Regions from separate parts of the Homo sapiens genome. Here region 1 is linked to region 2. The links come from fine-mapping of genetic effects on gene expression. A gene starts in region 2. The other region holds a variant in brackets. All regions are shown on one strand. Distances are from middle to middle. Region 1 overlaps VSIG10 (V-set and immunoglobulin domain containing 10). Region 2 holds the start of VSIG10 (V-set and immunoglobulin domain containing 10).

Region 1 (5,336 bases), 36 kb before region 2:
TCCTCTGATTGGCATTGGTACCTGGAACTTCACCTGTTCCAAGGAGCTGATATTTGCAAGGTGCCGTGGCTGAGGCAGGAGAATCGCTTGAACCTGGGAGGCAGAAGTTGTGGTGAGCCAAGATCGTGCCATTGCACTCCAGCCTGGGCAATAGAGGGAGACTCCGTCTCAAAAAAAAAAAAAAAAAAAAAAAAAAGCGGCAAAAGGCACCAAGACCCAGTGCTTCCCTGACCTCTGTTCCCTCTAAATCAGCATCTATCACAGTAGATCAACCTGGATAAAGCCAGGATTCACAGCAGAAGTGGCACCTCAGACACCAAAGCAGCTTTCCTTCTCAAAGCTTTTAAACATCATTGGGAAAACTTAGAGCAAATCAAACCAATGTTTTTCAATACATGGAAGGAAAGATGTGTGTGCTTGGTTTTGTTTTTTGCTGAGACCCAAACATTGTTAGTGCAAGCCCCCGCCAGGGGTGCAGGTGGAGTCAAAGCTGAATGAAGAGCTCGTCTTCAATGTAGCTCTCCAAGCTTTCAGAGCAAGACAACCATGGACCATCCTCTTCTTCAGACTGGCCTGTCTTCTTCTTGAACAATGTCACTTTGCTCCTCACTGCTGTCATCTGTATGGGGGGAAATAAACCCAATGCTTTGTAATCAGAGTGTGATTCTATTTCCACCGTCAGTCATCAATCATCTCAGTGATTTCTAGTCCTTTCCTGGTGAGCCACAGAATGGGATCTCATGGAGAAGGTAGGGCAGCGTGTGTTTTCCCCTTTTCACCTGTTTTCTACATTCAGAACCTCTAGGCATGCTTGATACCAGTCACCCTTCATGTCCTCAGCTCACGCCCCTCCCCTCACCTGAAACGCCCTCTCTCCTTTCTGCTTATTCCAACTCAGCCGTCTTAACGCCTTGCTTCATGTCTACCTCTTCCATAAAGCTTCCCCTGACCAGCACACCTCTCCGGGCTCTTATCTTTCTCTGAGGTCCTATAAATTTTGGTGCAGTGGCACGATCTCATCTCACTGCAGCCTCAACTTCCCAGGCTCAGGTGATTCTCCCACCTCAGCCTCCCAAGTAGCTGGGGCTACAGGTACATGCCACACACCCAGCTAATTTTTTGTATTCTTAGTAGAGACACGTTTTGCCATGTTCCCAAGGCTAGTCTCGAACTCCTGAGCTCCAGCGATCCACCCACTTTGGCCTCCCAAAGTGCTGGGATTACAGGCATGAGCAACCGTGCCTATAATTTTTAAATGTGTTGTCCATCAGGCAATTAATCAAATATCTTCCTGCAACAGCTCCTCTACTGCTCTCTCAGTGTGTTGGTTCAATCTTGCTCCTGTTTCCATTTCCCCTGCAGGTTTTAGTTTGTTCCCCTAAACTGGCCTTTTTTTTTTTTTTTTTGAGACAGAGTCTCACTCTGTCACCCAGGCTGAAGTGCAGTGGCACGATCTCGGCTCACTGCAGCCTCCGTCTCCCGGGTTCAAGTGATTCTCCTGCCTTGGTCTCCCAAGTAGCTGGGATTACAGGCACCTACCACACCCAGCTGATTTTTGTATTTTTAGTAGAGATGGGGGTCTCACCATGTTGGCCAGGCTGGTCTCAAACTCCTGACCTCAAATGATCCACCTGCCTCAGCCTCCCAAAATGCTGGGATTATAGGCGTGAGCCACCGCACCTGGCCTGAACTGGTCTTGTAAAGCTCCCTGCATGCAGACACTACCAGTCTCTATTTTCTGTTCTCCCACAATGCCAATATTGTGCCTACCCTAGACCAGGACCTTGATAAGTGTTTGTCAATTTGATTTTCATGTTGGTAGTTGATAGTAGTCTCAGGTTCTAGACTAAAGTTTAGCTATCTTCCCCAGCCTTTTAAAAAAACTAAACTCACCCCTTAGAGATTTCCTGCTGGGAAGCTCACCGCAGCAGTTCAGAGGTTTGTGGGCTTTTTTTTTTTTTTTTTTTTTTCTGAGGCAGGTTTCCTACTGCTGCCCAGACTGGAGTGCAGTGGTGTGATCATAGCTCACTGCAGCCTGGACTTCCTACACTCAAGTGATCCTCAGCCTCCCAAGTAGCTGGGAACACAGGTGCACACCACCATGACCGGCTAATTTTTCTTTTTTTTTTTTTTTTTTTTCGTAGAGACAGAGTCTCACCATGTTGCCCAGGCTAGTCTTGAACTTCTGGGCTTAAGTGATCTTCCCACCTTGGCCTCCCAAAGTGCTGGGATTATAGGCGTGAGCCAACGCGCCTTTTTTTGTTTGTTTTCTGTTTGTTTGTTTAAGGAAAAAGAGCTTACCTTGAAGATCCTGGAATCCATTTCCCATCTGTTCTATGTTCCCATTCACCAAGGCGGTCACTCTGTGAATGTGGTCCTGCTTAGGTATTTCTTTTGGCAACTCCTCTCTCTCACGTGCTCCCTCCTGTTCCCCTACTGCAGCATCTTCCTCCTCCTCCTCCTCCTCCTCCTCTTCCTCTTCTGAATCCACCAAAACCATGACATCATCCATGTTTTGTCCCCTAATTTCCAAAGGGGAAAAATAATCAAGAAGATTTCTTATTTTTCCCAACTTCAGCCCTCACTGAATAGGAAACACTAGATTCTTTGCAACCCCATTAGTAATATGGAAAATTACAGCTTGGTGAAGTAATGAGGTGATGGTGTGGTAACCGCAGAGATGCTGCCACAAAT[T/G]GCTTCAGATGATGGTATCTCATGCTGGTTTATTACTCCCCTGCTCCTTGGGCAGGTGACCATATTGTCCCAGGCATCTACCATTTCATGTCCCCTTACAGCAGGTAGACAAATGTTTTTCCTTTTCTGAAATGCCCTCATTCTGCTCTACTTACCAAAATCTCTCCCCTTCCTCATTTTGGAAGACCCAGGTAAAGTCCTCTCCCTCCTGCTAAAGACCTAAATTAATGACTGCATTTAGAGTCCATGCTATAGTTTATTTATCACCAGCTCACTAGCTTGCCTACCCAGCCAGACTTTGCATTTCAGACTATACATTTCTTTTTTTTTTCTTTTTCGGGATAGAGTCTTGCGCTGTTGCCCAGGCTAGAGTGCAGTGGCGCAATCTTGGCTCACTGCAACCTCCACCTCCTGGGTGCAAGCAATTCTCCTGCCTCAGCCACCCAAGTAGCTGGGACTACAGGCATGCGCCACCACATCTGGCTAATTTTTGTATTTTTAGTAGAGACATGGTTTCAACATGTTGGCCAGGCTGGTCTCGAATGCCTGGCCTCAAGTGATCCAACCACCTTGGCCTCCCAGAGTGCTGAGATTATAGGCATGAGCCACTGTTGTGCCCGGCCTGGACTGTGCATTTCTTCTTCTTCTTCTTCTTCTTTTTTTTTTTTTTTTTGAGACAGAGTTTCATTCTTGTTGCCCAGGCTGGAGTGCAATGGCACAATCATGGCTCACCGCAACCTCTGCCTCCCAGGTTCAAGCAATTCTCCTGCTTCAACCTCCCAAGCAGCTGGGATTACAGGCATGCGCCACTACATGCGGCTAATTTTTTGTATTTTTAGTAGAGATGGGGTTTCTGCATGTTGGTCAGGCTGGTCTCGAACTCCCGACCTCAGGTGATCCACCCGCCTCGGCCTCCCAAAGTGCTGGGATTACAGGCGTGAGCCACTGCACCCGGCCTGGACTATGCATTTCTTAAGGAAGAAGAATGAACGCCACAGGTCAGTCACCTGCCCGAGGAGCTGTGTTACATTGTCATTTAATCTTCACAAACCCCCTGGTGAAACAAATCAGGAGACTAAGGCTCAGAAAGGGTCAGGGATTTTCTATGGGTACAGGGCTTGGGAATGGCACAGCTGTCATTTGAACCCAGGTCCAATGGTCTCAGTGCCTTTTCCTACTACACCACACTGATGCCTCCAGTGAGAAATAAGCCCAGGGAATGACAGACTTACTAAGAATGGCCCTCCAATACAGGGCAGTAAAGGTAATGTTTTGCTACGAAAGATGGTCCCAGGTCAATAATATCCTGTCATTTTGAAGAGGTAAAGAACTGTTTTTCCATAGGATCATAGAGAAGAGTACTCTGCTCCCACCCAGAATCTCCTTAGGAAATGAAATACACAAGTTCCGTTTGGTTCCTTCGCCCCTACTGGGGTTTCCTTTTGGGAGGGGGTTCTGGGCATGCTCATAGTAGTCTTCCAAAACACTGTAAAACTGGCTGGGTGCAGTGGCTCGTGCCTGTAATCCCGGCACTTTGGGAGGCCGAGGCGGGCAGACCACTTGAGGCCAGGAGTTTGAGACTAGCCTGGGCAACATGGTGAAACCCTGTCTCTACTAAAAATACAAAAATTAGCCAGGCTTGATGGTGCGCACCTGTAATCCCAACTACTCGGAAGGCTGAGGCAGGAGAATGGCCTCAACCTGGGAGGTAGGGATTGCAGTGAGCTGAGACTGCACCACTGCACTCCAGCCTGAGCAAGAGAGAGAGATTCTGTCTCAAAAAAAAAAAAAAAAAGAAAAAAGAAAAAGAAAAAAAAACTTAAGACTATGACTGATTCTTTCTTTTAGCTCTTTTTAGAAAATTAAATAAAACAAATGCATGAATGACTGGCTCAAAATGTACACATTGTCTTTCTGTCTCAATGACAGACCTGCAATGTGTCCAGCCCTGAGGTTTGGCGCTGTAAAAGAACACAGACTTTGGAATTGATTAGACCTGGACCTGAAGGAAGGCACTGCTGCTTTCTTCTGGAATGAGCTTGCAGAAATTACTTCACTGAGCCTCCATCCCCTTATCTGGAAAATGGAGATGTCACCACCACCCTGAGGAGATGATGAAAGGGTTTATAAGAATACCTGATGAAATCCCTAGGCCAGTGTCTAGCACATCGTAGGTCCTCAATGGTAGTTGCTATTATTGTTCTTGTGAAAGGAAGGGAACAAAACAGAAGTGAAGACAGATGCGGGAATGGGTGTTTGGTTTGATTCTAGGGAACACTCACCTGGAAGTGTTTCCTACTGAAGAGAGAAAGGAAAAACCATTAATATCCAGTAACATCCACTTCAACCTGACAGGTTCTTAATCAGGCAAACATTTACTAGAGGAACAAATAAGAAAACTGACTCAATATGACAGGTGATAGGGTGTCCCGGGATGGTACTTAGGTGACTTATTACTGTGTATCTTGACCCAGCAAAGAAGCCCAGAGAACAGAACTTCAGGTGGGAGCAAGGCAGGGGCCATCCTTCCCCATCCCGCACCTTTTCAAAAGTCTGGAAGAGAAGCTAAAGGACCCAGGGAGTCCTTACCTTTCCAGCAGAACACAGGGCTATAATGCAACAGAAGCCCTGAGATAATGGCC
Region 2 (5,368 bases):
GGTAGCTAGTGGATGCATATAAGTTGTCTGGCATTGAATGTCAGGAGAAAAATTTTTTTCCCCAAAAACTCCCAACTTAAAAAACAAACACACAACAAAAATACACCAAGCTCAGGAAGCCCCCTGGCATCATACACAAAGGTGAAGCAGGTCTGGGCATCAAAATAGCTGGGCAAAGGCCCAACACGGTGGCTCACACCCATAATCCCAACACTTTGGGAGGCCGAGACAGGAGGATCGCTTGGGTCCAGGAGTTTAAGACCAGCCTGGGCTCAAGCGATTGTAGAGACCGTCTCTACAAAAAAATTTTAGAAATTAGCTAGGCGTGGTGGTGCACGCCTGTAGTCCCAGCTACTTGTAGGCTGAGGTGGGAGGATCAGTGCAGTGATTGCACCACTGCACTCCAGCCTGGGCAACAGAGCGAGAGCCTGGCTCGAAAAAAATAGCTGGCCATAGCAGTGGAGATAGGTTCCCCATGGGGCGGGTGGCAGTCAGCCTGAAAGCCAGGTCATTCCAGCAGGATGACTTCATCCCAGGGTTCTTCTCACTTCCCAGGTTCCTGGTGTTCATCGTGCAGGAAACACTGCAAACAGCTGGGGAGATGGGAATACTTGACAACCACCTTTCACGTCCAGAGATGACCAACTAGGAACTGTCCTCCCCCATCACCCACACCCCAGCACAGTGATTACTCAGCCAAATGCCTGCAGGGCCAGCAGGTAACACCCATGACTGAAGGTGGCGGGGCAAATATTACAACAGGGAGAGGTGGAACAAATTTGGGCTCATATGCCCTAGATAAGAGGATGACCACTGCCCAATTCCAACTGGGAAAGCAGGCCCCGTGTTGCCAGACCTTCAGATTTTTCCAGATAAACTGGAAATCTAGAGATGTTATTGTTTTTAAATGGTTGGTTAAAAAAAAAAAAGCAAAATAAAATTGTATGAGCCTAATAATTAGGAACTCTTGGCACTTGCTGCTAAGAAGCTCCAGCATACTTTACAACCCATCTCCAGAAACGTGCAAGAGGAGACCCGTTGGGTGGAGCAGACCCGGGAACACAAAAAGTAGCGCTCTGCCTGCATCCTGGCAAACTTCACCACCTCCTGGCTCCATCTCCTCTCCCTGCACCCCAGCCTCCTCCCAGCTTGTCACACTCCCAGCACACAGTAGGCATGCACAGTAGGCATGCTGGTGAATTAAATTCAAATATATATAAATAGTTCAATCTTTTTACATTCTACATATTTTTGTAAGCACCCCTCCAATTCTTTTTTCGTAGCAAAGCAGACCATAGATGAAGCATTTCAGACCTTTTGTCAATCATGTCAAGTGTGAGGGGAAGTCTTTTGTAAGTCAGCCAAGTATTTCAAAATAAAAAGCTTTTCCAAAAGTAAAGGCGGAAGACCCCGCTTTGAAGGCGCTGGTCGGCACAGGAAGACTTGCAAAGGTGTGTAGGGAAGTCCACCGGTTACAGGTGTAAGGCGAGTTCAACCTTGGGCAGAGGGAGGAGAAAAATAAAGTGGGAGTCTCGAGTTTGAGCACCAGCGTATCAGTTACTACTAAAACCAGAACGCGAATTTACATCCGACGCTTAAAAAAAAAAATCACTTTCCCGGCACACGTGCCTCTTTACTTTGCCCCCGCACGTCGGCTCGGCTCGGCTCCTCTGCAGCCTCACCGGCTGCCCACCCCAGGAGGCTGGGGGTATCTCGCCCCGCACCGGGCGCCCGGGAAAACTCCTTCCTGCAAAGACGGCCGAGCTGCGAGCAGGAAACCAAGACCCTCCTGGGGCAGCTTCTAGGCTGGGGCCACCACGGATCCGGGCGGAGTCGGAGGGAATTGGGTCTCTCGCTGTCCCCTCCCCACCGCTGACTGGGAAAACTCAACTTTTCCCTCCAGATCGCGGCCCCTTACCTACGGCGACCCAGCCGGCCAGGAGCGCCCCGAGGCAGACGAGGACGCGGGGCTCGGGCGCACTGCCGCCTGCGGCCATCTCGCCCCAGATCCCGGCTCAGGAAACGCAGGCTCGGGCTGGGCTGGACGTGTGTGCCCCAGGGCCCCGGGGCCCGGGGTACCGAGGGCTCCTCCCAGGTCCTCGGAACGGCAGAGTGGCCCCACTTCCTCGGCCCCCAGGAAGGATGCTTGGCTGAGCCGAGTGTCCAGGGCCGGCAGCGGAGCTCGGCTGCAGGCTCGGGTCCCCGCTCCCGAGCGCCCTGGCCGGGGAGGGAGGGCGCACCCCGCCCCCTGCGCCCGCCAGCCTACTCCTGCCGGCGGAAAACAACAGGAGCGGGATCCCTCCCGCCTCCCAGCCAGGCGGGAGCCCAACTTCCTCTACCTTGGCCCGGGAGGAGGGCTTTCTGCCGAGGGCGCGCCGAGCCGGGTCCCGCCGGGCCAGGGGCGGGGCGCGGAGGCTGGGCCCTCCCCAGTCCACTCCGCCCGGGACAGCAGTACCGAGTCGCGGGGACAGCGGGCGGGACGGAGCCCTGCAGCTGCCGCAGGACGCAACCCCCGCCGCTGCCCCGGGCTGCAGAACCCGGAGGAAGCGGTTGCCAAGCTGCAGAACGCAGGACCCCCCTGGCAGTCCCCGCTGAGCGTCTCGAGGGATTCCGGTCTGTGTCCCTGGGCGCAGGGCGGGCGCCAAGGCCGCCATCGCTTCCTTTCCTTACCCTCTGCAAAAGGGAGCCAGAGAAAGATGATCCCCTGACTTTCAGCCAAAGCAGCCACGAGACTCCGGTTCTCCAGTGAACTGGCTGGGACCACACAGTGACAGCGAGAGCCAAGGAGTCCCCAGGACGTGTTTCTCAAGAGTTTTGTTTTTGCTTTTCCCCTTTTAGTTCTCCCACCCCTTACCCAGTCAGATTCCCAGGCTAAGCTCCTCTCTTCCCTGCCATGCCCTCATCCCATTCTGTCCTGGGGAAAATGCGGCTTTGATATCCTCAGGAAGAGCCATCCATAAAACAGCCCTAGGAGAAACTTCCTGTTTCAAATAATAATAATATGGCAGGGCGTGGTGGCTCACACCTGTAATCCCAGCACTTTGGGAGGCCGAGGTGGGCGGATCACAAGGTCAGGAGTTCGAGACCAGCCTGACCAACATGGTGAAACCCTGTCTCTACTAAAAATACAACAATTAGCCGGGCATGATGGCGGGCGCCTGTAATCCCAGCTACTGGGTAGGCTGAGGCAGGAGAATCGCTTGAACCCAGCAGGCGGAGGTTGCAGTGAGCCGATATCACGCCATTGCACTCCAGCCTGGGCGACTGAGCGAGACTCCATCTCAAAATAAATATTAACGTTAAAAAAAAATCATTAGTTCTGTTGTTCAACGGTCCCCTTATTGAAATGCTTCTTCCATGAGGAAATCCTCTTGAAACCACTTTAAAAAAAAAATGTTTCTCCTGGTGAACTGAGCAATGAAGCTGAACAGTTCTGCCTTTTTTACTTTTCTGTTTTTTATTTTTTTGAGACAGGGTGTCACTCCAGTTGCCCAGGCTAGAGTGCAGTAGCACAATCATACCTCGCTGCAGCCTCAAACTACCAGGCTCAAGTGATCCTCCCACCTCAGCCTCCCGAGTAGCTGGGACTACAGGTGTGCAGCACCACGCCCAGCTAATTTTTGTAATTTTAGTAAAGACAGCGTTTCTCCATGTTACCCAGGCTGGTCTCGAACTCCTGACCTCAAGTGATCCACCCGCCTTGGCCTGCCAAAGTGTTGGGATTACAGGTGCGAGCCACCGCGCTCAGCCCTTTTTTATTCTTTGCTCAAATATTTTTAAATAACTGTTCATCAGCCGGGCACGTTGGCTCATGCCTGTAATCCCAGCACTTTGGGAGGCCGAGGCAGGTGGATCACCTGAGGTAAGGAGTTCGAGAGTAGCCTGGCCAACATGGTGAAACTTCGTCTCTACTAAAAATACAAAAATTAGCCCGGTGTGGTGGCAGGCGCCTGTAATCCCAGCTACTTGGGAGGCTGAGGCAGGAGAATCGCTTGAACCCAGGAGGTGGAGGTTGCAGTGAGCCGAGATCGCGCCATTGCACTCCAGCCTGGGGAGAAGAGCGAGACTTCGTCTCAAAAAAAATAAATAAATAAAAAATAAAATAAAATAACTGTTCATCAGATTCTTGACAGGAATTTTGTTTGTTTGTTTTTTGAGACGGAGTCTCGCTCTGTCGCTGCAAGCTCCGCCTCCCAGGCTCATGCCATTCTCCTGCCTCAGCCTCCCAAGTAGCTGGGACTACAGGCTCCTGCCACCACGCCCGGATAATTTTTGTATTTTTAGTGGAGACGGGGTTTCACCGTGTTAGTGTGGGGAAAAGCAAGAGAGATCAGATTGTTACTGTGTCTGTGTAGAAAGAAGTAGACATGGGAGACTCCATTTTGTTATGTACTAAGAAAAATTCTTCTGCCTTGAGATTCTGTGACCTTACCCCCAACCCCGTGCTCTCTGAAACATGTGCTGTGTCAAACTCAGGGTTAAATGGATTAAGGGCGGTGCAAGATGTGCTTTGTTAAACAGATGCTTGAAGGCAGCATGCTCCTTAAGAGTCATCACCACTCCCTAATCTCAAGTACCCAGGGACACAAACACTGCGGAAGGCCGCAGGGACCTCTGCCTAGGAAAGCCAGGTATTGTCCAAGGTTTCTCCCCATGTGATAGTCTGAAATATGGCCTTGTGGGAAGGGAAAGACCTGACTGCCCCCAGCCCGACACCCGTAAAGGGTCTGTGCTGAGGAGGATTAATATAAGAGGAAGGCATGCCTCTTGCAGTTGAGACAAGAGGAAGGCATCTGTCTCCTGCCCCTCCCTGGGCAATGGAATGTCTCGGTATAAAACCCGATTGTACGTTCCATCTACTGAGATAGGGAAAAACCGCCTTAGGGCTGGAGGTGGGACCTGCGGGCAGCAATACTGCTTTGTAAAGCATTGAGATGTTTATGTGTATGCATATCTAAAAGCACAGCACTTAATCCTTTACCTTGTCTATGATGCATAGACCTTTGTTCACGTGTTTGTCTGCTGACCCTCTCCCCACAATTGTCTTGTGACCCTGACACATCCCCCTCTCGGAGAAACACCCACGAATGATCAATAAATACTAAGGGAACTCAGAGGCTGGCGGGATCCTCCATATGCTGAACGCTGGTTCCCCGGGTCCCCTTATTTCTTTCTCTATACTTTGTCTCTGTGTCTTTTTCTTTTCCAAGTCTCTCGTTCCACCTTACGAGAAACACCCACAGGTGTGGAGGGGCAACCCACCCCTTCAGTTAGCCAGGATGGTCTCGATCTCCTGACCTCGTGATCCACCTGCCTCGGCTTCCCAAAGTGCTGGGATTACACGCGTGAGCCACCACACCCGGCCTGG

The links.
Region 1: its variant is fine-mapped to the expression of VSIG10 in whole blood (TOPMed, PIP above 0.99).

The regions. Positions count from the first base shown.
Region 1 is chr12:118,066,076-118,071,411 of GRCh38, forward strand. VSIG10 (V-set and immunoglobulin domain containing 10) reads right to left here. Exons shown (of 9, transcript NM_019086.6): 6 at 5,284-5,336; 7 at 4,977-4,992; 8 at 2,302-2,522; 9 at 1-619. The coding sequence ends at 564. The region is part of intron 1 of LOC124903030 (a long non-coding RNA gene); the gene reads left to right. Among named protein-coding and RNA genes, the nearest start is that of WSB2, 7.6 kb to the left of the region's middle. The variant T/G (reference allele first, on the strand shown) is at 2,695.
Region 2 is chr12:118,101,675-118,107,042 of GRCh38, forward strand. VSIG10 (V-set and immunoglobulin domain containing 10) reads right to left here and starts at 2,337. Exons shown (of 9, transcript NM_019086.6): 1 at 1,919-2,337. The coding sequence starts at 1,997. LOC124903029 (a long non-coding RNA gene) reads right to left here and starts at 1,908. Exons shown (of 2, transcript XR_007063478.1): 1 at 1,315-1,908; 2 at 1-593. RefSeq lists a silencer at 2,181-2,430 and an enhancer at 4,072-4,787.